Regions from separate parts of the Homo sapiens genome. Here region 2 is linked to region 1. The links come from fine-mapping of genetic effects on gene expression. A gene starts in region 1. The other region holds a variant in brackets. All regions are shown on one strand. Distances are between the middles of the regions.

Region 1 (14,583 bases):
TATCACAGTTGAAGTTCACAGTAGTACACTGTCTGGCCATGTCACTAGCCGGATGACAGGCCTCCTCACATCTCAGTGGCCACCAAGGCACACTGTGCCACTCCCAAAAGACCCAGATGGTGCCTCCTCTCTATGACCCCACAGCCGATGCTCTGCCTCCAACCTCTCAGCTTTTACTGGGATGTCTTCCCCAGCTTCTAACTGCAATGCAAATTGAAACCATCAGACCAGTTATCTCTGGCCGGGCATGGTGGCTCACGCCTGTAATTCCAGCACTTTGGGAGGCAGGGGCGGGTGAATCACGAGGTTAGGAATTCAAGACTAGCCTGGCCAAGATGGTGAAACCCCATCTCTACTAAAAATACAAAAATTAGCTGGGCATGGTGGTGGGTGCCTGTAATCCCAGCTACTAGGGAGGCTGAGGCAGAGAACTGCTTGAACCCGGGAGGTGGAGGTTGCAGTGAGCGGAGATGGCGCCACTGCACTCCAGCCTGGGTGACAGAGTGAGACTCCGTCTCAAAAATAAAATAAAATAAAATAAAAAATTGAAACCATCAGCTACTGCAGCCAAACTGAATCCATGCCTTCCCTTGTCACAATGCAGGCTGTGTCCCTCCTGACGCTGCCAGCGCAGCCCTCCCCTCCATCTCCTCCTGCTCCTCAGAAGCCACTCTCCACCAACTCTCACCACACTGTGCCTGGGAACCATCCACAGCTACACACGATCAGTCTCTCCAGAGTGCCCTCCTGCAAATTCATGTTTCCATCTCTCCTCCCTTCAATGGCAAGTATCCCATGAGGGTCACCTACACCCTCTATCTCTTCTACCACCTTCCAGTTCTCCTTCCCCACTCTAGTGGGACTTAAGCCCTCCACTATCTGGAACCACCTTTGAAAAAGTTGCAAAGTGAGAAAATCATGACAGTGAAAGACACCTGACCTAACGAACCCCCATCTTGCCTTTAACCTCCAAACTGCCCTTAGTAATCCCTGGGCTTGGGCCAAGATAACTAGGGAGAAATTTAGTTTACAGTTTAAATGATAATAGCCCTTCCCCAAAACTAACCCTCCTTTGTGAAGCTAATGAAAGACCATGAGGTTAGGAGGATAAGAGGAACCTACATTCTGGTAAGGTGTAGACATAAATATTACCAGCCATTATTCCAGAGATCACAAGATTTGCAACTTCCCCAATTACTCCTGCATATAATATTATTATCATTATTATTATTTTGAGATAGAATCTCCCTATGTTGCCCAGGACAGTCTCAAACTCTTGCACTCAAGGGATCCTCCCACCTTGGCCTCCCAAAGTGCTGGGAATACAGGCATGAGCCACCACGCCTGGCCAACTTTTTTTTTTTTTTTTGAGATGGAGTTTCACTCTTGTTGCCCAGGCTGGAGTGCAATGGCGCAATCTTGGCTCACTGCAACCTCTGTCTCCCGGGTTCAAGCAACTTTCCTGCCTCAGCCTCCCGAGTAGCTGGGATTATAGGCACACGCCCCCATGCCTGGCTAATTTTGTACTTTTAGTAATGACAGGGTTTCTCCATGTTGGTCAGGCTGGTCTCAAACTCCTGACCTCAGGTGATCTGCCCGCCTTGACCTCCCAAAGTGCTGGGGTTACAGGTGTGAGCCACCGCACCTGGCCCCAACATCATTATTATAGAACCTAAGATTAGCCTTTTGAGATATCTTTTCAGATTTTTGCATTTCTGACAACCAATGGCTCCACGTAGACTCGCCAATGAGTCCTGCAGCCCCACCCAGAAGCAGACTCTGCATGTAGGAGGACCATTTTCCACAACTCTATGATTGCACCTCCAACCAATCAACAGCACCCATTCCCTTGTCCCCCAAACTATCTTTGAAAAAACCTAGTGTCTGGCTGGGCATGGTGGCTCACGCCTGTAATCCCAGCATTTTGGGAGGCCAAGGTGGGCAGATCATGAGGTCAGGAGATCAAGACCATCCTGGCTAATACGGTAAAACCCCATCCTTACTAAAAATATAAAAAATTAGCCGGGCATGGTGGCAGGTGCCTGCAGTCCCAGCTACTTGGGAGGCTGAGGCAGGAGAATGGCGTGAACCCAGGAGGCGGAGGTTGCAGTGAGGTGAGATCACGCCATTGCACTCCAGCCTGGGCAACAGAGCGAGACTACGTCTCAAAAAATAAAAAATAAAAAATAAATAAATAAATAAAAATAAAAAACCTAGTCTCTGAATTTTCTAGGAGGCTGATTTGAGTAATAACACAATTCCAGTCTCCTGTTCAGCTGGCTCTGTGTGAATGTAACTTTTTCTCTGTCGCAATTCCCCTGTCTTGATAAATTGGCTGTATCTGGGCAGCAGGCAAAATGAACCCATTGGATGGTTACAGTTCCACCAAAACACTTTCCCCATCATCACCAAAGACCATCTGGCAGCACCTGCCACTCCCTGAAACACTCTGTTCTTGGCTCCAGGGCACAGCCTTCCTGGGTCTTCTCTACCTTTCTGTGCCTCCTTTACTCTCTTCTCCTGGCCACCCCCTAAGTGTTTCCATTTTGAGGAAACACTTTGTCCTTTGTTCCTTTGTCTGGACTCTCTCACCTCTGCCTCTCATGCTGTCCCTGGGCAGTCTCACTCACCCCAGTCTACTTCCTTCCAATATCTGGAGTTTCAAGCCTGGGGTTCAAGCTCTCCTGAACAAGCTTCAGTGAATCTTCTACCATTTTATGCAAAATTGTGAGTGTTTTAGCATTTGTGTGCAAATCTGTATACAAATGTTCATAGCACTTTTAGGTATAACAGTAAAAAATTTAGCCTGGGCAACATGGTGAAACCCGTCCCTACTAAAAATAGAAAAAATTAGCTGGGTGTGGAGGCACGCACCTGTAGTCCCAGCTACTCGGGAGGCTGAGGCAGGAGAATCGCTTGAACTTGGGATGTGGAGGTTGCAGTGAGCCAAGATCATGCCACTGCACTCCAGCCTGGGCAACAGTGAACACTTTGAGATGGAATCTCCCCATGTTGCCCAGGTGAAAACCTGGTGGTCTTTCAATAGCTTTACAAAGACAGTTTAGTTTTGGGGAAGGGCTATTATCATTTAAACTGTAAATTAAATTTCTGCCGAAGTTAGCTTGGCCCAAGCCCGGGGATGACTAAGGGCAGTTTGGAGGTTAAAGGCAAGGTAGGGATTGGTTAGGTCAGGCGTCTTTCTCTGTCATGATTTTCTCACTGTTACAATTTTTGCAGAGGCAGTTTCAGAATGGTGGGGGGCTTAAGCCCCACTAGAGTGGGGGAGGAGGGCCAGAAGGTAGTAGAGGAGATAGAGGGTGTAGGAAATGGTTCAGAAGAACATCTGAACTGTTTCCAGTTTTTACTTTTTTTTTTTTTTGAGACAGGGTCTAAAAAAAAAAATAGTAAAAACTGGAAACAGTTCAGATGTTCTTCAGTGAGTGGTTAAATGGTGAAATAGCCATACTATGGAATACTACTAAGCAATAAAAAGGAACAAACTATTGCTATACACAACAACTTGGATGAATCACTAGGGAATTATGACGGGTGAAAAAAGCCCATCTCAATGGTATACACTTTATGATTTCATTTATATAGTATTCTTGAAATCACAAAATTTTACAAATGGAGACAGATTAGTGGTTGCCAGGCATCAAGGATGGTGGGAGAAGGGGAGGATTTAGGGTGTGGCTATAAAAGGGCAACTCCTTGGAGTGATGCCCCTGTTCTGTATGTTGACTGGTGGTAACACACTGTAGTTGTGCAAAATGTTACACCAGGGGAAATGGGGTCAAGGACACGTGGGATCTCTCTTTATCATTTCCCACAACTGCATGTGAATCTACAGAAAAAGTGATTTCAAAATAAAAAAATTTAAACAAATGCAGGGTGGGTACAGTGCCTCATGCCTGTAATCCTAACACTTTGGGAAGTCAATGCAGGAGGACTGCTTGATGCTAGGAGTTCAAGATCAACCTGGGCAACATAGCAAGACCTCATCTCTAGAAAATTTAAAAAATTGGCTGGGTGTCCTGGCACGCACCTGGGAGGCTGAGGTGGGAGGATCACTTGAGCCCAGGAGTTTGAGGCTGCAGTGAGCTATGAATGCACTACTGCACTCCAGCTTTGGAGACAGAGTGAGATCCTGTCTCTACAAATAAAAATAAAAAAGGCTGGCTGGACACAGTGCCTCACGCCTGCAATCCCATCACTTTGGAGGCCAAGGCGGGCAGATCACTTGAGGTCAAGAGTTCGAGACTAGCCTGGCCAACATGGTGAAACCCCGTCTCTACTAAAAAATACAAAATTAGTCAGGCGTGGTGGTAAGCGCCTGTAATCCCAGCTACTCAAGAGGCTGAGGCAGGAGAATCGCTTGAACCTGGGAGGCAGAGGTTGCAGTGAGCCAAGATCGCACCACCCCAGTCCAGCTTGGGTGACAGAGTGAGAGTGTCACAAAAAAATAAAAAATTAAGTTAAATTAAATTAAAAAGGCAGCCTGGGCCAGGCTCAGTGGCTCATGCCTGTAATCCCAGCACTTTGGGAGGCAGAGATGGGTGGATCACTTGAGGTCAGGAGTTTGAGACCAGCCTGGCCAACATGGTGAAACCCCCTTCTCTATTAAAAATACAAAAATTAGCCAGACGTGGTGGCATGTGCCTGTAGTCTCAGCTACTCGGGAGGCTGAGGTACAAGAATCACTTGAACCCAGGAGGTGGAGGCTGCATTGAGCCAAGATTGCACCACTGCACTTCAGCCTGGGAGACAGTGTGAGATGCTGTCTCAAAAACAAAAAAAAGGCAGCCTGTGTAAAACTGAACTTGAATTAAATGTCATCCTCCACCCCAAAGTTTGTTCTTCCAGTAATCCTCATCAAGGAGAACAGGGCACCAGGGCACCCTCTGGGGCGGCACCACTTGGGTCTTCCCTCAACCCACTGCTCCCCCTCCCCACTCCCCATTTCTGGTTCTTCTGCAAGTCTAGCCTATTCTGTCTCCCCAATACATCTCAAATAAACTGTCTTTCCATCCCCACAGTTGTTTACCAGCCCAGTTCTCTGCTGTACAACCTCAGCAGCCTCCACCCCGACCCCCCACTGCCACTCTGGCCCCCTCCAGTCTGTTCCAGAGCAGCTAGGGTGAACTTTATAAAACATACATCACATTGTGCTGCTCCCCTGCTGAAAACCTTTTGTTAGCTCCACACTGATCCCAAGATAAAGTTTAGCTGCTCCATCAAACCCCATCTCTAGCAGTTCACCCACACCCAGCTTCTGTGAATCCCAGGAGACCTTTCTCCCCAGGGCTTTGAAAATGCAGTTCCTGCTGCCTGGGCCATTCTCCTGCCCTCCTCCCCTAGATCTCCACAGTCCTGCTGCCCTTTCTTCACCCAACATGCATCCCACTGTCCTAGGAACTGATTTCTCTTTAACTGTCTTCATTACTCAATACACAAACACATTCTTGCAGTAAATATTCAAACAATGAGGAAGTCCAAACAGCCTAAAGAGAAAGTAAGCCTCACCCCATTCTATTGGCCTCTGGGAGGGAACTACCACTGACCTCGGCCTTCCTGATCCACCACCTCCTGCTTATGTTATTCACAGTAGGAATGGCCAGCTGAGGTCATCTTATTCTACATGACCTTTTCCATAATTCTATAATTTCTATAATTGCTTGTTTTATAATTTCTCTCCTCTACCAGACTGCAGGGCAGAAACTACAGGGAGTGTCTGTCTCAGTCAGTCTTTGAATCGGAACCCCACTAGATGGAGACAGGGCTACCCCGCCCCCCATTTCCTGGTGCGAATTGTGATCCTTCAAGAAGTGAAGGGAGTCCTGGAGCAGTCGCTCACGCCTGTAATCCCAGCACTTTGGGAGGCTGAGGCGGGCAGATCACTTGAGGCCAGGAGTTCAAGACCAATCTGGCCAACATGGTGAAACTCCGTCTCTATTAAAAATACAAAAAAATGGCCGGGCGCGGTGGCTCACGCCTGTAATCCCAGCACTTTGGGAGGCCAAGGCGGGCGGATCACGAGGTCACGAGATCGAGTCCATGCTCGCTAACACGGTGAAACCCCGTCTCTACTTAAAATACAAAAAAAAAAAAAAATTAGCCGGGCGTGGTGGCGGATGCCTGTAGTCTCAGCTGCTCTCGAGGCTGAGGCAGAAGAAGCAGAAGAATGGCGTGAACCCCGGGAAGCGGAGGTTGCAGTGAGCCGAGATCGCTCCACTGCACTCCAGCCTGGGCAACAGAGCAAGACTCTGTCTCAAAAAAAAAAAAAAAAAAGGAAATTAGCCGGGTGTGGTGGTGCACGCCTATAGTCCCAGCTACTCAGGAGGCGGAGGCACGAGAATCGCTCAAACCTGGGAGGGGGAGGTTGCAGTGAGCCGAGATCGCGCCACTGCACTCCAGCCTGGGCGACAGAGTGAGACTCCGTCTCAAAAAATTAAAAAGTGCAGGGAGTGGCTGAGATCTCCTAGGAAGCTGCAGGACTCAAAGCTTCAGCTTCATCCCGCCAGTCCAGTACTTCGAGTTTGCACCCTATCTGTATACTCATCTCATCCCACTCCTCCAAGACCATTCTTGGTCTGTATTTCCCACAATATCTATTCTGCGCCATGGCCCCGAGTCGCTAAGGCTGCCCTTCCTCCCCGACGCCCAGCAGATGCACACATGGAGGTGCTCAGTGTTTGCTGTCTCCAAAGCCCACAGTTTTGAGCCTGAGCACCAACCCCATCCCAGGTTCTTGCAGAGCACGGAACAGTCTGTCGGCACCCAGCGTTTGCTGGCCTGGGTCTGGGAACACCGCGTCCCGGCCGGGCACACCGCGCCAGCACCCACGGTGTCAGTTTAATTTGTAAAACTGCACCGGCCACGGTGCGCACTGCAGGCGCCAGGTGTTTGCTGGCTTGGGTCCCTAAGCTCTGAGTCCAGGCTGTGCACACAGGTGGCGCCTCTGCTGCTGTGGTCTGATTTTGAGACTACGTCCTAGCACGAGGCATACAGTCCGCTCCGCAGAAGTTCTTCGTGGTCAGGCCGCCGAGGCCCTCCTGCCCGCAGCTGCGACCGCACCCCCGTCCCGGGCCCCGCGCGCCGCCAAGCCGCCTCCCTGGCCGCGGCTGTTCCAGACCGCCCCGCCGTCGCCTCCCGCGCAGTTCCCTGCAGGGAGCCCCTCCCGCGCCCGCCCAAGGCCGCCCAGGCTGGCGCTGTTCCGGACCCGAGCCCCCTCCCCGCCGGCCTGGCTCTCCCCGGCTGTTCCGGCCCCGGAGCTCCCCCGCCGGGCCTCGGCTCCCGCGCTGTTCCCGCCCGCGCCCCTCCCGCCCCGCGGCTGTTCCAGCCCCGGCGCCCTCCGCCCCGCGGCCGCTGCGCGCCCTAGGCCGGGCGCTGCGAGGGCGCGGCGGGAGGGGGCGCAGCGCGGAACAGCCGCCTCCGCCGGCCCCGCCGCCGCTCACCCTCCAGGGCCTCAAAGATCGCCTGCGCCATCTTGGAGCCGCCGCCGTCGCCGCCACAGGAACCGAAGCCCGGCTACGCGAGCATTGTGGGAGCCGTGGCGGTTGAGTCGGGGCCGCCAGGGGGCGCCCAGGAGCCGCCGCCGAGCCCCCAGCCCTGGAAACCCAACCTAGGCTCGCGGGACCCCAGCATCTCTGGGCTGCCCTGGCTCCACTCGATAACCCAGTCACCGGGCCACCGAGTGTGGACCCCGCCTCACTTGAACGACCAAGTCTACACCGACCTTATATCCGCCGCACACGCGGAACTTCCCATCCCTATTATCTAAATCCGCATCCCCATCTCACCGGACCCGACCCCCCAGCTCTGACACAGAATCCCCCATTCCCACAGCACGTGAGTCCTCCAGGTCTGCTGCACGGACCCCATTTCCGCTGAGCACAGTATACCCCGACTCTGCAACAAACCATGACCCCTATCCCATCTCACCCAGACCACCCAACTGTCACAGGGATCTCCAGGCTGTACAACATAGATTCCCATCCCTCATCCCCTATTAGAGACTTCCCGCCCCTACTACCCTGCTCAACTCTGCCTGTTGGGAGCCCGCCTCAGCCTCCAGAGTAGCGGGGACTACCGGCACACGCCACCATGTCCTACTAATTTTTATTTTTATTTTTTTGTAGAGATCAGGGTCTCACTATTTTGTCCAGGCTGGTGTCAACTTCTGGCCTCCAGCGATCCTCACGTCTCGGCCTCCCAAAGCACTGGGATTACAGGCGTGGGTCTCCGTGCTGGGGATCCCATTATCTCTTAAGTAACTCCATCTCTTCACCCTCCATCCCTGCTTGTTGGGACCCCATTTCTGTCACATAAACCCCCAACACCCACCCCAGCCACTCCTAGCCCAGCCTCCGAGGGGTCCTATCCAGGTCTCACAGAATGAGAGGTGCTCCTCACTGGGACTTCCCCTACACACACAGACCCCTCTCATCTTCATTCATCCTCCATCAACTGCTTATTAACGGCCTGCTATGCACCAAGTCCCGTAATAGCTCTAGAGACATGGTGGTCCTTTCCCATGGAGTTAGAGGTGGGAAGAAAGACCGACATTAGGCCAGGCGCGGCGGCTCATGCCTGTAATCCCAGCACTTTGGGAGGCCGAGGCAGGCGGATCACGAGGTCAGGAGTTCGAGACCATCCTGGCCAACCTAGTGAAACCCCGTCTCTACTAAAAATATAAAAATTATCTGGGCATGGTGGCACGTGCCTGTAATCCCAGTTACTTGGGAGGCTGAGGCAGGAGAATTGCTTGAACCAGGGAGTCAGAGGTTGCAGTGAGCCGAGATCGTGCCACAGACTCCAGCCTAGCGACAGAGCAAGACTCTGTCTCAAAAAAAAAAAAAAAGACCGACATTAAATCTTAAAGGTTATTTAATTACAATGTGTATGCCGGCCACAGTGGTTCACACCTGTAATCCCAGCACTTTGGGAGGCTGAGGCTGGAGGATCATTTGTATCCAGGAGTTTGAGACCTGTCTGAGCAACATAGTGAGACCCCGTCTCAACAACAACAACAAAAGTAGCTGGGCATGGTGGTTTGCACTTGAGTACCAGCTACTCAGGAGGCTGAGGCAGGAGAATTGCTTAAGCCTAGGAAGTAGAGGCTGCAGTGGGCTATGATCTCACCACTGCACTCAAGCCTAGGCAACAGAGTGAGACCCTTTCTCAATAATCAATGTGTGATAGTGGTTTCAAAGTACCCTTGGGAAACAAGCAAGAGTTTAGGGAGTGCATAGAGGGGAGGGGGAAACTAAGGAAGGGGCTATTGTTAAAGAAAAAATTAGGCCGGGCACAGTGGCTCACGCCTGTAATCCCAGCACTTTGGGAGGCCAAGGTGGGCAGATCACCTGAAGTCGGGAGTTTGAGACCAGCCTGACCAACATGGAGAAACCCCGTCTCTACTTAAAAACAATAAATAAATAAAATTAGGTGGCCATGGTGGCACATGCCTATAATCCCAGCTACTCGGGAGGCTGAGGCAGGATAATTGCTTGAACCCGGGAGGCGAAGGTTGCGGTGAGCCGAGATCACGCCACTGCACTCCAGCCTGGACAACAAAAGCAAAACTCCATCTCAAATTTAAAAAAAAAAAGAAAAAGAAAAAATTATTTACCTGGGTGTGGTGGCTCCTCTGTAATCCCAGCACTTTGGGAGGCTGAGGTGGCGGGAGGATTGCTTGAGCCCAGAAATTGGAGACCAGCCCAGGTAACATAGTCAGACCAGCATCTCCACAAATGATTTTTAAAAATATTAGCCAGGTATGTGGCACATACCTATAATCCCAGCTACTAGGTAGGGATGCTGAGGTGAGAGGATTTCTTGAGCCAGAGAAGTCAAAGCTGCAGTGAGCCATGATCATGTCACTGCATGCCAGCCCGGGTGACAGAATGAGACCCTGTCTCAAAAAAAAAAAAAAAAAAAGAAAAAAAATTGTTCAATGATCTTTGCTAAAACACAAACACAATAAGGAAGGCTTTATTCAGAACTACTGCGATAGGTACCACTACAAAGGGGCCTTGCAGTGGGGGAGAGAGACTGGGCTCAACTCTGAATACAGCATAGGCAAGTGGGAATTTATAGCCGAGGAACATCATGGGGGCTGGGGGTAGGGAGGTCAGTTGATAGAAAATTACCAAGAGGAAACATCGGAGGTAAGGGGAATTCTGGCTAAACCGACCTAACAGGATTCTTGCTGAAGATGGGCTAGGGTAATCAACATCACCTAGGAGATGGTGACAGATGAGGAACCTGATCAGATATCTAGGATGATTAAATATTAAGGATGGGGGTTCCTGCTAAACTGACTTAAAGCATTCTTTGTGAAAACTAGATTTTACAAAGAAGTGCACAGGTGGGCCTAGCAGAAGATTCCAAAGTCTGACCAAGCAGTTACAGCAAGCAAAGAATCTTTGTCACCATCAATCATGAATCTCTCCCATGATCATGGCCACATCGTCATACAACGGGACAACCATGGATTGGACTCTAAATGTTCTCATTGGTTTTACTAAAATACCTATTTTAGCCTCAGCTAAATAAATAACAAATATCATAATTTTCATTTTCTTGTATTCACTATATAACTCCTACAATTAAAAATTATTTGTTTGCAGCTGGGCATGGTGGCGCACTGCTCTAAGCCTAGCACTTTGAGAGGCCAAGGCAGGAGGACTGCATGAGCCCAGGAGTTTGAGACCTGTGAACTACAATTTTTTAAAATTGTTTTTTCAAAGTTCCTCTCCCCTTGGGGAACCCTGCTAGCCACTGTTCCTGACAAGTTGTCTCTGTGGAGACAAAAGTGACTCCATCTTGGATGCTAATCCCCCATGTTGACTTCTGATTAGCCCCAGTCCCGTGAATGCCTCCTGATTCCTACTTTATTTACTGTCCCTAGTCAGCCTGATGTTATTGCACAAATTATAAGCTATATGCCGCCCTGATGTTATTGCATAAATTATAAGCTATGAAACATACAGCATTCTTGTCTGCTCTGGAAGTTTCCTTTAATTGTCTTGCAGAGAGCACTTAAAACTCTTTCCCTGTGGAATATAAGGCCTAAGTCTTGGGGTAACAGAGGGAGAGATCTCCTGTCTTGCTGCCGCCCAAGCCCATGCTGCTTTTAAGATCCCCCATTAAAACACCCTTTACTGACAAACTGAATTTGTCTGCCTCATTCCTTGGTTTTTTGGCTCCGTTGGCATTTGGGGACCACTTTGTATATATGGCCCTTTCACAGAATAGCCTCACAGACTCTCTGCCTATTTACCCCCTCAAGGCCCATTTCTGCCGGTGAACTCCTTGTACTTCCCTGAACACCACCCCTGTGCACACCACTGCTACCCCCTTACCTCCATTTCCCTTCCCATTCCCCCCTGCACAGTGAGCCCTGAGCAAATGTTCCCCACAGAAAACCCAACCTGCCAGGGGCAGTGGCTCAAGCCTGTCATCCCAGCATTTAGGGAGGCAGAGGCTGGAGGATCGCTTGAGCCTAGGAGTTCAAGACCAGCTGGGGCAACACAGTGAGACCCCATTCTCCACAAAAAGGAGAAAAAGAAAAAAGAGGAAATCCACTCTTCTCCAAGACACCACACCCCACCTACCTTCCTGGGAATCTTGAAGGGCACACCCCAAGCTGTGAGCGCCCCCTTCCATTGCCTTGCTGGCAGGGTAAAGTCAGGGTTCCTTCCTCCCTGTCTCTAACATGCTCACTGATCCAATGGCCTCAGATTCTCCCCTCTCCCCTGCAAGTTTCTCCATATAACTATTCTTTGTTTGTCTGCATCACCAAAGCCTGCAAAGTATACCTATTGTTTTTGTTTTATTTATTTATTTATTATTTTTTGTTTTTTGAGACAGAGTCATGTTGTGTTGCCCAGGCTGGAATGCAGTGGCCAATCTCTGCTCACTGCAACCTCCACCTCCCGGGTTCAAGAGATTCTCGTGCCTCAGCCTCTCAAGTATCTTAGACTACAGGTGCCTGCCACCATGCCCAGCTAATTTTTGTATTTTTTGCAGAGACAGTGTTTCACCATGTTGGCCAGGCTGGCCTCGAACTCCTGAGCTCAGGCAATTGCCTGCTTCAGCTTCCCAAAGTGCTGGGATTATAGGCGTGAGCCACCACGCCCGGCCTGTTTTAGTTTTATTATTCAAATAAGAAATGAATATGTTCACATTTATTTGATTACTTTCAAAATATTTGTTGAGCACCTACTGTGTGCTAGACACCATTCTAGATGCTGCGGATGCAGGCATGAACCAAAAGACAAAAATCCTTGCCTTCATGGAGTCTTAGTCTAGCTAGGTGAGATGGGCTGTAAACAAGGGGAAAAAAAAAGAGAAAGAGAGAAATTTTCTATGACTTTAAATACTTTTTTTCCAGAAAGAGGGGAAGCTACTTTTAGACAGAATGGTCAGGGGGAGTCTGTCTGAGGAAGTGGGCCTGAGAAATAAGCTGGAGTCAGCAATGTGAAAAGAGAAGAGAAAGGCAGAGAGACCAACAAGTGCAAAGGCCCTGAGGCCAAAATGAAAAGAGGCCAAGAACTGTAAAGGGGCAGCTGAGAGTAATAAGTGATGTATGGGTATTTGTATTTTCAGTAGAGACGGGGTTTCACTGTGTGAGCCAGAATGGTCTCGATCTGACCTCGTGATCCACCCACTTCGGCCTCCCAAAGTGCTGGGATTACAGATGTGAGCCACTGTGCCTGGCCAGCTTCCCATATATTTCCATACCACCAGGTGCATATGCAGAGTAGATTTTCATCTATGCTGTTGCATAGATGCATATTGCATATGCTGTTCTCTCCTGCTGAAACGCCTGCAACAATAGGAGCTTGGCCATGCGCCATGGCTCACACCTGTAATCCCAGCACTTTGGGAGGCCCAGGTGGGCAGATCACCTGAGGTCAGGAGTTCAAGACCAGACAAGACTCTTGTCTCAAACTGTGTCTCTACTAAAAATACAAAAATTAGCCAGGCATGATGGCGCATGCCTGTAATCCCAGCTACTTGGGAGGCTGGGGCAGGAGAATCGCTTGAACCCAAGAGGCAGAGGTTGCAGCAAGCTGAGATATGAGCCACATATGCCTGTAGTATACCTGTTGTCTCAGCTACCTGTAGCTGAGATCTGGGCTACAGAGCAAGACTTCATCTCAAAAAAGAACCCCACCACCACCCCCACACACACAAATTGGACCCCAGGGCTTGGCACAGAGGCAACTTGGGAAATGCTTCACTGAAGGCTTGACCGATGGAACTGAATGAGTTTCAGGGAGGTAGAGCCCCACCTCTGGCAGGCTCCCCAGTCAGGCTGCCCCCACTCCAAACTTTCCACCCCTTACTGGCATCTCTTCATCCACCAAACACTTATCAGTCACATGTCCAGTTCCCTTGGGGCTACCTGGTTGGCACCGAACAGAATCCAATCACAGCTTAGAGACTCCTGGGGTAGGTAATGTAATAATTCCAGGCAAGGGGTCAAGCAGGGAGGAGGGAGAGTGGGAAACGTCCAGTGTCCCACTCCACAGTGAGTGCTCCAGCCACCCCAGAAAAATTAACTTCTCTGTGGGGAGGGAAGAATCTCATGCTTAAATCAGACTCCCAGCTACAAGGGGAAGAATGTGCTGACACACAAGGCAATGCTGGGTCCTGACATCTTGTTAGGTTGGTTGGTGTTGGTAGTAAGCAGCAAAGCATGTGGCTGTTATGGATTGAATTGTGTCTTCCCCACAAAATTCATACGTTGATGTCCTAGCCCCTAGTACCTCAGAATGTAACTGTAACCTGAGTCTTTAAAGAGCTAATTAAGGGGCCGGGTGCGATGGCTCATGCTTGTAATCCCAGCACTTTGGGAGGCTGAGGTGGGTGGATTAGCTGAGGTCGGGAGTTCAAGACCAGCCTGGCCAACATGGTGAAACCCTGTTTCTACTAAAAGTACAAAAATTAGCTGGGCATGGTGGCGCGCACCTGTAATCGCAGTTACTCGGGAGGTTGAGGCAAGAGAATCACTTGAACCCGGGAGGCAGATGCGCCACTGCAGTCCAGCCTGGGTGACAGAGCAAGATTCTGTCTCAAATAATAAATAAATAAATAAATAAATAAAGAGCTAATTAAGGTTAAACGAGGTCCGGCCAGGCACAGTGGCTCAGGCTTGTAATCCCAGCACTTTGAGAGGCTGAGGTGGGCCTTGGAGTTTGGCAAGGTCAGGAGTTCAAGACCAGCCAGGCCAACACAGTGAAACCCTATCTCTACTAAAAATACAAAAAAAAAAAATTAGCTGGACATGGTGACGGGCACCTGTAATCCCAGCTACTAGGGAGGCTGAGGCAGGAGAATCACTTGAACCTGAGAGGCAGAGGTTGCGGTGAGCCGAGATTGCGCCACTGCACTCCAGCCTGGGCGCAACAGAGCAAGACTCTTGTCTCAAAAAAAAAAAAAGGTTAGGGCCAGGCGCGGTGACTTTAGGAGGTCCAGGCGGGAGGATCACTTGAGGTCAGGAGTTCAAGACCGGCCTGATCAACATGGTGAAACCTCATTTCTACTAAAAATACAAAAATTAGCTGGGCGTGGTGG
Region 2 (14,583 bases), 61 kb before region 1:
GCAACCTCTGCCTCCCAGGTTCAAGCAATTATCCTGCCTCAGCCTCCTGAGTAGCTGAGATTACAGGTATTGCCACCACACCTGGCTAATTTTTTGCATTTTTAGTAGAGATGGGGTTTCCCTATGTTGGCCAGGGTGGTCTCAAACTCCTGACCTCAGGTGATCCGCCCGCCTCAGCATCCCAAAGTCCTGGGATTACAGGCATCAGCCACCGCACCCGACCAAAATGGTGAATTTTATGTCATGTGAATTTTATCTCAATTTTTATTTTTATTGTTTGAGACAAAGAGTCTCGCTTTGTTGCCCAGGCTGGAGTGCAGTGGCACAATCTCGGCTCACAGCAACCTCTACCACCCAGTTTCAAGTGCCCACCACTACACCTGGCTAATTTTTGTATTTTCAGTGGAGACAGGGTTTCCCCATTTTGGCCAGGCTGGTCTCGAACTCCTGACCTCAGGAGATCCGCCTACCTTGGCCTCCCAAAGTTTTGGATTACAGGCTACAAACACCACGCCCGGCCTTATCTCAATTTTTTTTTTTTTTTTTTTTTGAGACAGAGTTTCACTCTTGTTGCCCAGGCTGGAGTGCAATGGCACGATCTCGGCTCACTGCAACCTCCGCCTCCCGGGTCCCGGTTCAAGCAGTTCTCCTGCCTCAGCCTCCTGAGTAGCTGAGATTACAGGCATGCGCCACCACGCCCAGCTAATTTTTGTATTTTTAGTACAGACAGGTTTCACCATGTTGGCCAGGCTGGTCTCAAACTCCTGACCTCATGATCTGCCCACCTCAACCTCCCAAAGTGCTGGGATTACAGGCGTGAGCCACTGCGCCCGGCCCCTTATCTCAATTTTTAAAAGTGCGTTGAAGTAATGAAGAGGGAACATGTTTTGGTGCCTACCACACAGACCTAGATTAGAATTGGGGCTCTGCCATTCAGCCATGTGCTTTACCTGCCTTGGTTTTCCTGTCTGTGAAACAGAAATAACACTATATTCCTCACCAGGCCATTCTGATGATTCAGTGACAACACAGACAAAGGCCTTAGCACAGAGTATGTATTCAACAGATATTTATGAAATAATAACAACAGGAATAATAATCATTAACATCCACGGAGCTCTCACTCTGACAGCTTACATAGAATATCTCATTTATTTACTTATTTTTATTTTATTTTATTTTTTGAGACAGGGTCTCACTCTGTCACCCAGGCTGGAGTGCAGTGGCACGATCATGGCTCACTGCAACCTCTGCCTCCCAGGCTCAAGCGATCCTCCCACCTCAGCCTCCCGAGTAGCTGTGACCACAGGTGTGTGCCACCACACCCAGCTAATTTTTGTATCTTTTGTAGAGACAGGGTCTCCCTATGTTGCCCAAGCTGGTCCTAAACCGCTGGACTCAACTGATTCTCCCCCCTTGGCCTCTCAAAGTGCTGGGATTACAGGTGTCAGCCATCACGCCCAGCCAGATTATCTCATTTAATCATCCAACTATAGTTCTATGAGGTAGTTACAGATTACAGCTGAGGAAACAGAAGCTTGGAGAGGTTGAATAACTTGCCGAAGATCACACCATTATTGAGTGGACTGGTTGGCACTTGAACCGTGAGAAAATAACAGAGAATCTTCATCAGCACTTTATGCTAAGCCAGACACTGAGCCGAGGATTTTACATGCATTACCTCATTTAGCCCACACAACAACTATATGAGGTAGGCTTTATTGTTCCCATTTTATACATTAACAGAGGTTGGACAGCTTGCCTAAGATCACACACTTGTAGGAGGCAGAGCTGGGATTCTTACTGTAAAGGCAACCAGTTTAGCCACTGTGCTATTCTGCCTACATGCAAATAATGAATGAACAGAGAGACACTCACACCTACAAACAGGTAAATAAATAAAGTGTGGTGGGCCTGGGAGCAGGTCTCACCTCCCAGGGGAGTGGGGCAAAGTAAGCGATGGGGGCAGGAAAGGCCCAACCCAGCAGAACTTGAGGGGTTAAGTGAGGAGTGAGGGGGAGGTGGGTGAAACTGTTGACCAGAAAGGACCCTACACTTGTGCTAATGGTGGGTTACAGGGCCTACTCCATACCCATTTGTCTGACCACATGCAGGCCATGCAGCAGGCCCTAGACGGCCACACAGGCTCCAGTCAATGACTGTGACTCCCTGGACTTTACCCCAGGGAAACCCTCATCCTCACCCAGGCGCAGGCCCAAGGCACAGGTAGACTAGAAGTCTACCTGCACGAGGAAGGAAAAGTCCACATCCAATCCCTTAGAATATCCTGTTGGCTCTATCATCAAAATATATCCAGAAAGCTATCATTTCTTACCATCTTCATTGCGGTTACTCTGGTCAAAGCCACCATCATCTCTTGCCTGCACTATTGCAGTAGCCTCCTGGTGGGCAGGATAATGGTCCTTCAAAGACGTCCATGTCCTCATCCCCAGAATCTCACCTTAAATGGACTTTGTAGAAGTGTTAAGGAGTTTGAAATGATGAGCTTATTGTGGATTATCCAGCTGGCCTCAATGTAATCACAAAACAGAAGCAAGAGGTTTCAGAGTCAGAGACTGGCAGGATGCTGCCCTTCTGCCTTTGAATGGAGAAAGGTGCCACAAGCCAAGGAATGCAGGTGGCTTCTAGAAACCGGAAAAGACAATGGAACAGATTCTCCCCTAGAGCCTCCGGAAGGACAAAGCCCTGCCAACACTTGATTTTAGTCCAGTGGGAACCATATCAGACTTCTGACCTCCAGAGTGATAAGATCTGTGTTGGTTTAAGCCACTAAGTTTCTGATTCTTTATTACAGAAGCAAGAGGAACCTAATACTCTTCCTCATTGGCCTTCCTGTCTCCATCTTTATTCCTTCCAGCTCATTCTCTACATGGTAAGCAGAGGTATCCTTTAAAAAATATGTGTTTGGCTGGGCACAGTGGCTCATCCCTATAATCCCAGCATTTTGGGAGGCCGAGGCAGGCGGATCACTTGAGGCCAGGAGTTCAAGACCAGCCTGGGTAACATGGTGAAACCCTATCTTTACTAAAAATACAAAAATTAGCTGGGCATGGTGGCATGCACCTGTAGTCTCAGGAGGCAGGGGCACGAGAATCGCTTGAATCTGGGAGTTGGAGGTTGCAGTGAGCTGAGATCACGCCACTGCACTCCAGCCTGGGTGACAGAGAGAGACTCTGTCTCAGGAAAAAAAAAATTATATATATATATTTTTTTGACATCTGACATATATATATACACACACATATATATATACATATATGTACACACACACACATATATATGTTTTGACACTGGACATACATATGTATGTCGGATCCAGTCACTGAATGCTCACAATCCTCCAATGGCTCTCCACGTCCCTCAAGTAAAACCCAAAGTCCTTTCAATGTCCCTCAAGTCCCTACATGATGTCATGATTTTCCTGTCACCTCCTTGCCCTCCCCCTTTCCAGTGCCTCACTCCAATCACACTGGCCCCTCTACTCTTCCTCAAACACACCAGCACCCTCCAAACTCTCAAAACCTCTACTCACCTCTACTTTTTTTCCTTCTCTATAGTCCTCGTCACCTCCTAACATCTATAACTTACTTATTTACTTTGTTGTTTATCTTCTGCTTCCTCCACAAAGGATCTCCACAAATGATTGTTTTGCTCATGATGTATCATCAAAGAACTATGCTTGGCACGTCATAGGTACTCAAGAAATATTTAATCAATAAATAAGTGGACTGAGGTAGCAGTGGCCTGGGAAGCAGCCTTGCCTTGATGAGACTTTGGACAAGACCTTTTCTCTCCCTGGGCCTGTTTATTCTCTGTGATTCTTCAAAGGACGCAAGGCCCTAAAGTTGGGTTCTGTGCCTAAGCCTACCTGAGGCACCCTCAGCTAGTAAGAAGTCACTGCCAATCCTTAGATGGAGCCTGCTCACCTCCCTGATCACCACCCTTCAGGCCCTGAAAGCCTTGTGTGTGGGGGGGTCACTTGCTGGCAGCCTTGGGGGTTGGGAGCACCCGTAGCTGCCACCTCCACTCCTTCCTCCCCAAAGGAGACAAAACTAGTCCAACCAGTTCCCTGGGCCACAGGGACACCTGCTCTGTCGACTTCCACCTGCTCTGTCGAGACTTCCAAGCCACCTGCCTTAGTCATTTGGCCCAGATATTCTCTGCTCCCTCTTTGAACAAAGGAAGATATCCTTTTATATCAGACATTACTTCCCAGGACCCTGGGTCAGTCATATCTCGGTCTACATGACAGATTCTCTGGTCTCCCTGGGGTGAGAGGAGCGGGTGGGTAAAGTGAGCCTTCTTCTCTCAAAGTGCTGTTGTTTATTCATTCGACAAATATTGATTGAACAATTCCTGGGAAGGTCTAAGCACTGTAGATACTTCAGGAACAAAACAGACAAAAGTCGATGCCTTTGTGGACCTTTTGTTTCTAATGAGGACAACAGACAATAAACAAATGTCTAATATAATGTCAAGGGTGACGTATAAAAATAAAATAGGGTAAGGAATTCGAGAATGATGGAGGTGGGGCTATGTTACACAGATTGGCCAAGGAAAACTTATCAGAGGAAATGAGTTTTTTTGTTTATTTATATATTTATTTATTTATTTTGAGACAGAGTCTCACTCCGTTGCCCAGGCTGGAGTGCAGTGGCATGATCTCAGCTCACTGCAACCTTCACCTCCCCAGTTCAAGTGATTCTCCAGCCTCAGCCTCCTGAGTAGCTGGGATTACAGGCACGCACCACCATGCTCGGCTAATTTTTTGTATTTTTTAGTAGAGACAGGGTTTTGCCACGTTGGCCAGGTTGGTCTCAATCTCCTGACCTCATGATCCACCCACCTCAGCCTGCCAGAGTTCTGGGATTACAGGTGTAAGCCACCACGCCTGGCCCAAATGTCCCAATTTTTTACATTTTCTAATTGCTTCTGGAGTATAGGAGCATAGTAGATTTGTATATATTGATCTTGCTATTATTTCAGCACCCTTGCTATTATCTCACCCTTTCCAATCCTGATACTATTTATTTCTTTTTCTTGCTCTATTATTCTGGCCAGGCCACTAATGTAATATTGGAGTCATAACAGCAGGCATCCTTGTGTCATTCCTGACACTTCACCACTGTAGTATATTTTAAATTTGTTTTTAAACGTTGGCTTACTTTTTCAGACACTGTGAATGCCAAACTGTCTGGAGGCTGCCATGAGCGGCCAATTTGTGATCTCTGCTTTACCTGAATTATTTCCGTGAATTGTGACATCAACCTCGCCAGGTAGGTACTATTATTCTCCACACTGACACAAGGAAACTGAGGTTCAGAAAGGTGAAGTGACTCGCCATAGTCACACAGCTAGGAGGGGGCAGAGCCAGAATTCAAACCCAGCTCTGCTTGATACCAAAGACTGTAATCTTTCTCTTTTTTTTTTTTTTTTTTTTTGAGACAGAGTTTACTCTTAGAGTAAGAGTCTGTCCATGAGTTTACTCTGTCACCCTGGCTGCAGTGCAATGGTGAGATCTCGGCTCACTGCAACCTCCGTCTCCCGGATTCTACAAATTCTCCTGCCTTGGCTTCCCAAGTAGCTGGGATCACAGGCACATGCAACCACGAATGGCTAATTTTTTGTAGTAGAGATGGGGTTTCGCCATGTTGGCCAAGCTGGTCTCGAACCCCTGACCTCAGGTGATCCGCCCATCTTGGCCTCCCAAAGTGCTGGGATTACAGGAGTGAGCCACCACACCCGGTAAAAAAACTGTGATCTTTCTGGGGGTGGAGTGAGACCCTGGATGCCTAGGCCAGCCCCTTTTTATGCTCCACTCTGTCCAGCATCTTGGAGTTCGGTGGCAGACCCTGGGGTCCTGGAGCAGCTATCTCCAACTTTCTTTTTTATTATTTATTTATTTATTTATTTATTTATTTATTTATTTAATGAGACAGAGTCTTGCTCTCCCCCAAGCTGGAGAGCAGTGGCATGATCTCGGCTCACTGCAACCTCCGCCTCCCAGGTTCAAGCGATTCTCCTGCCTCAGCCTCCCAAGTAGCTGGGACCAGCTCCAGGGCCACCACATCTGGCTAATTTTTTGTATTTTTAGTAGAGACAGGGTTTCACCATGTTAGCCAGGATGGTCTTGATATCCTGTCCTCGTGATCTGCCTGCCTCGGCCTCTCAAAGTGCTGGGATTTGTCACCAACTTTCTGTTAAACATTATAGCTGATCTTGGTATGTCCTTATCTGTGGCTTGGCTCTGCTACTTCCCTCCTGTGTGACTTTGGGCTGCTTAACCTTAATGTGCCTGTTGCCTCATCTCAGCTGCAAAATGGGCTTAAAAGTAGTGCCTACATTGAGGTGCTGGGGATGGTGCCAGGCATTCATTCGATAACTAATAAATGTTAGTTCTCGTGATTACCAGTAGACGTGTATGCCTGTGTGCACTGACAGGAAGAAGCTATAGAAAAACCACTTAAATAGTTATATTAGGAAGAAGATGTCATTTTTTTTTCTTTTTTTGAGATGGAGTTTCACTCTTGTCACCCAGATTGGAGTGCAATGTCACGGGATCTCAGCTCACTGCAAACTCTGCCTCCCGGGTTCAAGCGATTCTCCTGCCTCAGCCTCCCAAGTAGCTGAGATTACTGGCATGTGCCACCACGCCCAGCTAATTTTTTTGTATTATTAGTAGAGATGGGGTTTCACCATGTTGGCCAGGATAGTCTCAAACTCCTGACATCGGGTGATCCACCCGCCTCGGCCTCCCAAAGTGCTGGGATTATAGGAGTGAGCCACCACACCCGGCTGAAGATGTCGTTCTTCACATTTCTTTCAATGCCATTGTTACAACTTTTAAAAATGTTCACTGTCTCCCATGACTCCCCTTCATTATGTGGAGAATAAAGTCCAGATTCCTTAACCCACATCTAAGGCCCTCTCTGATTCATCAACCCACACTTCAATCGTGGAAAGTGGCTAAGAACCCATGGAGGCAGGCTGCCGTGGCTTGAGTCCCAGCTCTGCAGCTTTCCTGGCTGTGTGAGCTTGGGTAAGGAAGTTTACCCCTCTGGGCCTGGGTTTTCTCAGCTGTAAAATACAGAAAGTAACAGCACTCACATGACAGGCTGAGGCGACGTGACTGTAAATAGCCTGGCACAGTGTCCCTCGTGTGGAGAAGGTGAAGCAACAGCCATGATCATTATCCACCTACTCCTCTGAGACCTCTGGTCACCCTGGAACATCCGCCGGCCCCAGAACATAGCAGGCCTGGCACTGTCCCACCCCAAGGTGTTTGCACGCGCCCTGCTCTCACCCAGCACACCTTCCCCTATCCATCCACCCATCAAAGCACCCCGGGCCAAGGCCCAGCTCCAGGGGCATCCCCTCTGACTTCCTGTCCCCACCAGTCCCCCTCGGGCCTTTGTGCAGGCCGGTACACTTACACACCTCACCCCCATCAACTCTGTCCCTCCTGCCGCGTCACACCCTTCCTGAGGATGTGGGAAGCTGGGCCTGGCTCTGAGTTCCAGCCCTGAGATCCAACACAGATGCCTGAGGGACCTGCCAGCCTTCAAAACAATTCAGTCATCAAATGGAGTCCAACAGCCCAGAAGGGTGGCTGTGAAGATAAACAGGAAAACACTAGTCAAGGCCCTTTTCTCCTTCCCGCCTCCTCATGAGCCCGGTCCACCTCCCACCGGGACCAGCTGAGAGGTAGGAGGAAGCACTGGACGCGGTGACATTGATGGCCTCCAGATGCCGACACGAGAGGGATTTCTGATCTTGTTTACAACGGATTTGGAGGTGGCTAACTATCCTGAATTCCCACAAGTGAGTACAAACCCCGACCCCCATGGGGTGTTGTCCTGGACTGTTTTCTGTGGATGGGTGTTCCCAATTTCCTTTCTTTTTTTTCGTTTCTTTTCTTTTTTTTTAAATCTTTGAGACAGGGTCTTGCTCAGTTGCCCAGGCTGGAATGCAGTGGCACAATCTCAGCTCACTGCAGCCTCAACCTCCTGGGCTCAAGTGATCCTCCCACATTAGCCTCCAGCATATCTGGGACTGCAGGCACCCACCACCATGCCCAGCTAATTTTTTTTTTTTTTTTTTGAGACAGGGTCTCACTCTGTCTCCCACACTGGAGTGCAGTGGCACGATCTCAGCTCACTGCAACCTCTGTCTCCTGGGTTCAAGTGATTCTCCCGCCTCAGCCTCCCAAGTAGCTGGGAATACAGGTGTGCACCACCACACCCGGTTAATTTTTGTATTTTTACTAGAGACGAGGTTTTGCCATGTTGGCCAGACTGGTCTCAAACTCCTGATCTCAGGTGATCAGCCCACCTTGGCCTCCCAAAGTGCTGGGATTACAGGCATGAGCTGCCGTGCCCAGCCTTGCTTCCCTTATCATCTCTCCAGGGCTCCCTGTGTGAGGGGCCTGGGACCCCTCAGCCACCACAAGCTTCAGAGGGGGAGTGCTGCCACCTAGGGGCAAAGAAGGAAACTGCCACAGCTTGGCCCAGGCCACCCGGACACGTTATGACAAAAACATTTATTGAGCACTTTCTGCGTGCCGGGCACCATGCCAAGCCCCTGGCGCACTTCATCATACTGGATCCCCAGGACAACCCTATGAGGTAGTAGTATCGTAAGCCCCATTGTACAGATGAGGAACACGGGGCTCAGAGAAGTGAAGTGACTTGCCCAAGGTCACACAGCAAGTGCATGGCAACTCTTGGATTTGAAGCCAGATCTGTCTCATAGCTGCAGTCTAGCCGTGACACCTGAGTGCCTCCTAAAAGCTACATCACAGAGCTGTCTGAGGATGCTGTGGGGAACCGTCTGTGAAAAGGTGCAACACGTAAACTCCGAAGAGTTTATGGCAGGCCTCCTGAAGAACAGCAGACTAGAGGCTACCCAGAGGCAGCCTGGAGACAGAGTGGGGAGGAATGCCCTGTCTCCTCTCCCAGGGGCCCCGACCACCAGCCTAGACCAGCGGGACTCTGGGCTGCTCAGGCTTCAGCCATCTCTCTCCTGCCACCATGGCTCTGCCCAGAAACCGTGGATGGCCCTGCCCCCAACCCTAGAATGTTGCAGGGCTTTCCGGCAGGAGAGGGGCACAGGAGGGCGACCATGGGCTGAGGTTTCTGAATGACATTCAGCAGGATTTCTGCCAATGGCTCGATGGCTCGCTTCCACTGGTAAGGATCACCGGTCTGCCCCCAGGGGCCCTGGACCCAAACAGGAGCATCAGGCCTGCCCAGGAAACAGACACCTCAGGTCCGTCACTCGGAGGCCTGGATGTAGACGGGCACAGCGAGCATGGCACATGGGCCCTCGGCCCCAGCCTGCAGCTCCGCCAGAGCCAGGTTGGAGCCCAGCCCCTCAGCGTGTCCAGGTACCACCAGCTCAGTTTCCGCGCCCACCGCACCACCCACAACGATGGACAGCACCGCGTCCGGCTCTGCGAAGGGCGGCTTGCCGGGGACAGCCTCGGGCACCAGCCCAGCCCCTGTGTCCTTCAGCTCCTCCAGCCCCAGCGGGTCAGGCAAGGGGGTCAGCACCTTGCGCCCACCACTGCCGCAACTGCGGGGGGCTGCCCTCCTCTGGGGGGGCCGCCGGGTTTGCAGGTCCTTGTCCTTTTGGGGGCCGAGACGACAGCGGTGATCTTTGAGGTATTTGTGGCGGGAAAAGCCCTTGGCGCAGCCAGCACAGCGGAACTTGTAGTTGCCC[G/A]TGTGGGCGCGCTGATGCTCGGCGAGGTGGGCACGGCGGCTGAAGGACTTGCTGCACAGGGCGCATTTGTGGAGCTTCATGCCTGGAGGGCAAGGGAAAGTCAGTGAGAAGCATCCAGACCTTCACCCCGCAACAGTGCCCTGCGCTGGGAATAAAATCCAGGCTCTTTCCCCACCAGCACCTGTGTGATCTGGCCCCAGCTCTCTCCACCCTCGTCGTCTGCCTTCTTCCAGCCACTCTCTGCGCCAGCCACACTCGCTCTCCTCAGAGATGCCACGCTGGCTCCTCCCTCTGCGCCTTTGTACTTGCCATTCTCCTCTGCCTGGAACAGCTGCTCACTCTCTGCACCTTGGCTCGCTTTGCCAGGTCATCTCAGGCTCAGGGAGGGGCCGTGACGCCTGAGGCCACCCACAGGAACATGGCAGCACTAAGACTCCAACCCAGCCCTGTGTGTCCAAGTCATTGACCTACTCTCCCAGTTTTCACACTTTCTTTAGTGACTGACTCCTTTCTGTAAACCTTCTCAAACAAGGGAGACTTTACCCCCCAGAGGACTCAGCAATGCCTAGAGACATTTTTGGTTGTCACAACTGTGGGGGGATGCCACTGACACCAGTAGATAGAAGCCAGGGATACTGCTAAAAATCCTACAGGGCACAGGACAGCCCCCAGGACAAAATTATCTACAGGATTACAGGCCAGGCGCCGGTGGCTCACACCTGTAATCCCAGCACCTTGGGAGGCCAAGGCGGGCAGATCACTTGAGGTCAGGAGTTCGACACCAGCCTAGCCAACATGGTGAAAACCCCATGTCTACTAAAAATACAAAAATTAGCTGGGTGTGGTGGCAGGCACCTGTAATCCCAACTACTTGGGAAGCTGAGGCAAGAGAATCGCTTGAACCTGGGAGGCAGAGGTTGCAATGAGCCAAGATCACACCACTGCACTCCACCTGGGTGACAGAGGGAGGCTCCGTCTCAAAAAAAAAAAAAAAAAATTATCTGGCCCAAATTGTCAATGGTGCCAGGGTTGAAGAACCTTGTTTTAGACCTCGGCTGGCATGTGGAAAGCCAGCCAGGCTGCTCTGAGGAGGCGCTGAGAAACTGAGGAGTGGCTTGGAGACCCCTGCCCTGCCCTATCAAAGAAGCTTCCTGGCCATGTCTTGGACCTGGCTGGAATCTGATTCCCTCCACACCTCGTCCACACCTCTATTACACTGGGCACTGCTCCAACTGAGTCATCTCTGCTCAGGTCAGCTTCCTCCTTGGACTGGGGGACTGTGTCTGATTCATCTCTGTTCACCCTTAAGTCCCTAACACAGGCCTGGCTCATAGCCCACATAAGTGAAAGTGCTGGCTGGAATGTGCCAGGCAGGGAAAACAAGCCTCACAGGATATGTCTGCTCTTTCTCTTCCTGGCGGGTCTATCCCAGTGAACTAGAGCTGAACCAGACCCTCTTAGCAGGCCCAAGAGCCACTTACCAGAGTGGGAGAGGATGTGGGCCTTCAGCTTGTCCGGCCGGTTGAACTCCTTACTGCAGCCTGTGTGCGTCCTAAAACCCAAAGCCACTGGTCAGGGGGAGCTCACCAAGCTTAGGATCCTCTTGCTGGCCCCTCCACTAGCCCTGGGCACAAGGGACAGCCTTGTCCACCCTAAGGGCTGGGCAAGGAGGTAGGGTGGGAAGTGAGGCAGGCAGGGCCCAGGACAGGATAAAAGGAGAGAGGCCTGGCCAGGCACAGTGGCTCACGCCTGTAATCTCAGCACTTTGGGAGGCCGAGGTGGATGGATCACTTGCGGTCAGGAGCTCGAGACCAGCCTAGGCAACATGGCGAAACTCCATCTCTACTAAATCTGTAATCTCAGCTACTTGGGAAGCCGAGGCAAGAGAATCGCTTGAACCCAGAAGGCAGAGGTTGCAGTGAGACAAGATCTTACCACTGCACTCCAGCCTGGATGACAGAGTGAGACTATGTCTCCAAAAAAAAAAAAAAGGAGAGGCCTGCCCTCAGGCCTGACATCTGTCCCACCCTCCCCAGCAGCACCCCTGGAGAATCTGTCCCGCTACCCACCCCCCTGCATGGCAGTCTCTACTCACGAGAAAGGGCATTTGTATTTCTTGAAGGGCTCGTGGATCAACATGTGTCTCTTCAGTTTGTCCTTGCGGTTGAACGCAGACTCGCACACTGAGCATTTGTAGGGCTTCTCACCTGCAGCAGACACAGACAGGGAGAGCCAGCACTCACCAGGAGTCGGCATCCAGGGCACAAGGGTCCCCGCTGGGCCCCTCAGGGGAGCAGCTCCTCTAGGGAGGTGGCCAGGGGAGAAAATAGCCTCTCTCATTCTTCAGTGGCTTTGTTTTGCCAGAGACAAGACAGGGCTATTTTGACAGGATGGTCAGGAGAGGCCTCTCTGATGAGGCCATGCATGAGGAGAGACCTCAGGTCATCAGGGAGATGGTCTGGGCAGCAGGGAAAGCAGGTACAAAGGCCCTGAGGCAGGAGTGCGTTTGGCGGTGCTGATGAACAACAGGGAGGCTGGTGTGGCCAGAGAACAAGGCAGAAGGTGAGGGCAGCGAGCCAGCCAGGTCCGCATGGGAGGACCTGGGAGGCAGAGCTAAGGACTTGGCTTTTATTTATTTATTTTTTTTGAGACAGAGCCTTGCTCTGTCACCCAGGCTGGAGTGCAGTGGCAAGATTTCAGGTGAGTCACTGCAACCTCTGCCTTCTGGGTTCAAGCAATCCTCCTACCTCAGCCTCCTGAGTAGATGGGATTACAGGTGTGTGCCACCACGCCCAGCTAATTTTTGTATTTTTAGTAGAGATGGGGGGTTTCACCATGTTGGCCAGGCTGGTCTCGAACTCCTGACCTCAAGTGATCCACCTGCCTTGGCCTCCCAAAGTGCTGGGATTACAGGCATGAGCCACCGCGCCCAGCCAGGACTTTGGCTTTTACTCTGAGCCAGAAGAGAAGCACCAGAAGGTCTGAACAGCAGAGGGATGGACTCTGATGTAAGCTTTTAACCAGCTCGAATGAGGGTGGAGGTGAGGATAACCAGGAAGTGGCCCAGGACAGCCATGTTGGGAAGGCACAGTCGGCAGCCCTTGCCACTGGACTGGCTGTGACTGTGAGAGGAGGAGAGGAGTCAAGGATGAGGCACGGCCTGAGAAGCAAGGTGGCCTCATGTCATTTCTGGCAATGCGGTCCACCCTGGGGGACGAGGAATCACACCTTATCTAACTGAATCCTTCCAAAAAACCAGGAGGCACTGACTCCCATCATCCCTGTTTCACAGATAAGAAAGAAGACTGAAGTTCAGAGAGGTGAAGGGACTGGCTCAGGGGCTACCCCTATGGTTGCGGGAGCTAAGATTCCAGCCCAGCAGCGTGATCCAGAGCCCATCTGAGCTACCCAGATCTTCCTGCTGTTAAACCCGTCCTGGGGCAGCTCTTGCCTGATGGGCTACCTGAGGAACCCACAGGAAATCAAGGGAGGTGCCTGCAAAGTTGCCGTGGGGTCACAGCCTGCCCTTTGGAAGGGGCTGTTTCTGGGCTGCTGTGACTTCCTGCCATTATTTCCTCTCTGTTCTCCCTCTGGAATGAATAAAGTACTTCTGAAAAACCATCAACCCAGTCGATACGGAAATGCTGGTCCCTACAATAGAATGCTCTGTGGTCATTAAAAAGATTAAAAAGGTCAATCTGTGTTTCCTGATCTGGAAAGATCTCCTGGACATACTGCTAGTGGGGAAAGAAAGCAGTAGAACAGCTTAACACAATCTCGTCTTTCTTAGAAAAAAATATAATCCCTACTGGATATGTAAGCTCCAACAAAAAAAAAAGAAAGAAAAAATACAACCTGCACACCCCAAAAAAGCCCTGGCCATGTGTCTCTGTAAATAAACTGAAGATGCAGGAAGAAAGATGGGGAGGTGTAGGGAAAGGACAGACCAAAGTGTCAGTGGCAACTACAACTTGAAGGGGAAATTTAACATTTTACTTTATGTACTCCTATATTGTTTCCATTTTTATAATAACCATGTATTATTTGTGTGGTTTTTTTTGTTTTGTTTTGTTTCGTTTTTTGTATTTTTTTTTTTTTTTTTGAAACAGAGTCTTGCTCTGTTGCCCAGGCTGGAGTGCAGTGGTTTGATCTTGGCTCACTGCAACCTCCATCTCCTGGGTTCAGGCAATTCTCCTGCCTCAGCCTCCTGAGTAGCTGGGATCACAGGTGCGTACCACCACACCCGGCTAATTTTTGTATTTTTAGTAGAGACGGGGTTTCATCACGTTGGCCAGGCTGGTCTCAAACTCTTGACCTAGGTGCTCCACCCACCTTCACCTTCCAAAGTGCTGAGATTACAGGCATGAGCCACCGCGCCTGGCAGCATGTATTACTTTTGAATAATAATTTTTAAAAGCCATAAAGAGCAATTTGGTAATATCAAACTTACAATGCATTACTTCTTTTCCCTTCTTTATTGTGGAGAAATATACATAACAGAAAATTGACCATCTTAAGCTTCTTTTAAGTGTATAGTTCAGTGGCATAAGTACATTTGCACCATCATGCAACCATCACCATCATCTGTCTCTAGAATTTTTTCATCATCCCAAACTGAAACTCAGTATTACACATGCATTTTAACCTAGCATTTCCACTCCTAAGAATATACACTACAGATACACTTCCAAAAGCTTGCCAAGGGACCCACACAGCATTGTGTGTACAAACTAATAGCTGAAATGTAATTTAACGGTTCATACATAGGCTGGGCGTGATGGCTCATGCCTGTAATCCCAGCACTTTGGGAGGCTGGGGCGGGGGGATCACTTGAGGTCAGGA

The links. PIP is the estimated chance that this variant, and not a neighbour inherited with it, causes the effect.
Region 2: its variant is fine-mapped to the expression of ZNF341 in whole blood (TOPMed, PIP above 0.99).

Annotation. Positions count from the first base shown.
Region 1 is chr20:33,724,924-33,739,506 of GRCh38, reverse strand. ZNF341 (zinc finger protein 341) reads right to left here and starts at 7,511. Exons shown (of 15, transcript NM_001282933.2): 1 at 7,455-7,511. The coding sequence starts at 7,485. It overlaps LOC124904890 (a long non-coding RNA gene), which reads left to right and starts at 7,524. Exons shown (of 2, transcript XR_007067569.1): 1 at 7,524-7,861; 2 at 10,346-10,570. RefSeq lists enhancers at 5,401-5,480, 5,439-6,142, 7,811-7,870, 7,881-7,940 and a silencer at 6,991-7,700.
Region 2 is chr20:33,786,228-33,800,810 of GRCh38, reverse strand. ZNF341 (zinc finger protein 341) reads right to left here. Exons shown (of 15, transcript NM_001282933.2): 13 at 11,837-11,948; 14 at 11,223-11,293; 15 at 8,542-9,823. The coding sequence ends at 9,294. It overlaps ZNF341-AS1 (ZNF341 antisense RNA 1), which reads left to right. Exons shown (of 4, transcript NR_110623.1): 2 at 2,816-2,893; 3 at 5,195-5,297; 4 at 13,034-13,438. Among named protein-coding and RNA genes, the nearest start is that of ZNF341-AS1, 18 kb to the left of the region's middle. RefSeq lists an enhancer at 8,374-8,668. The variant G/A (reference allele first, on the strand shown) is at 9,742.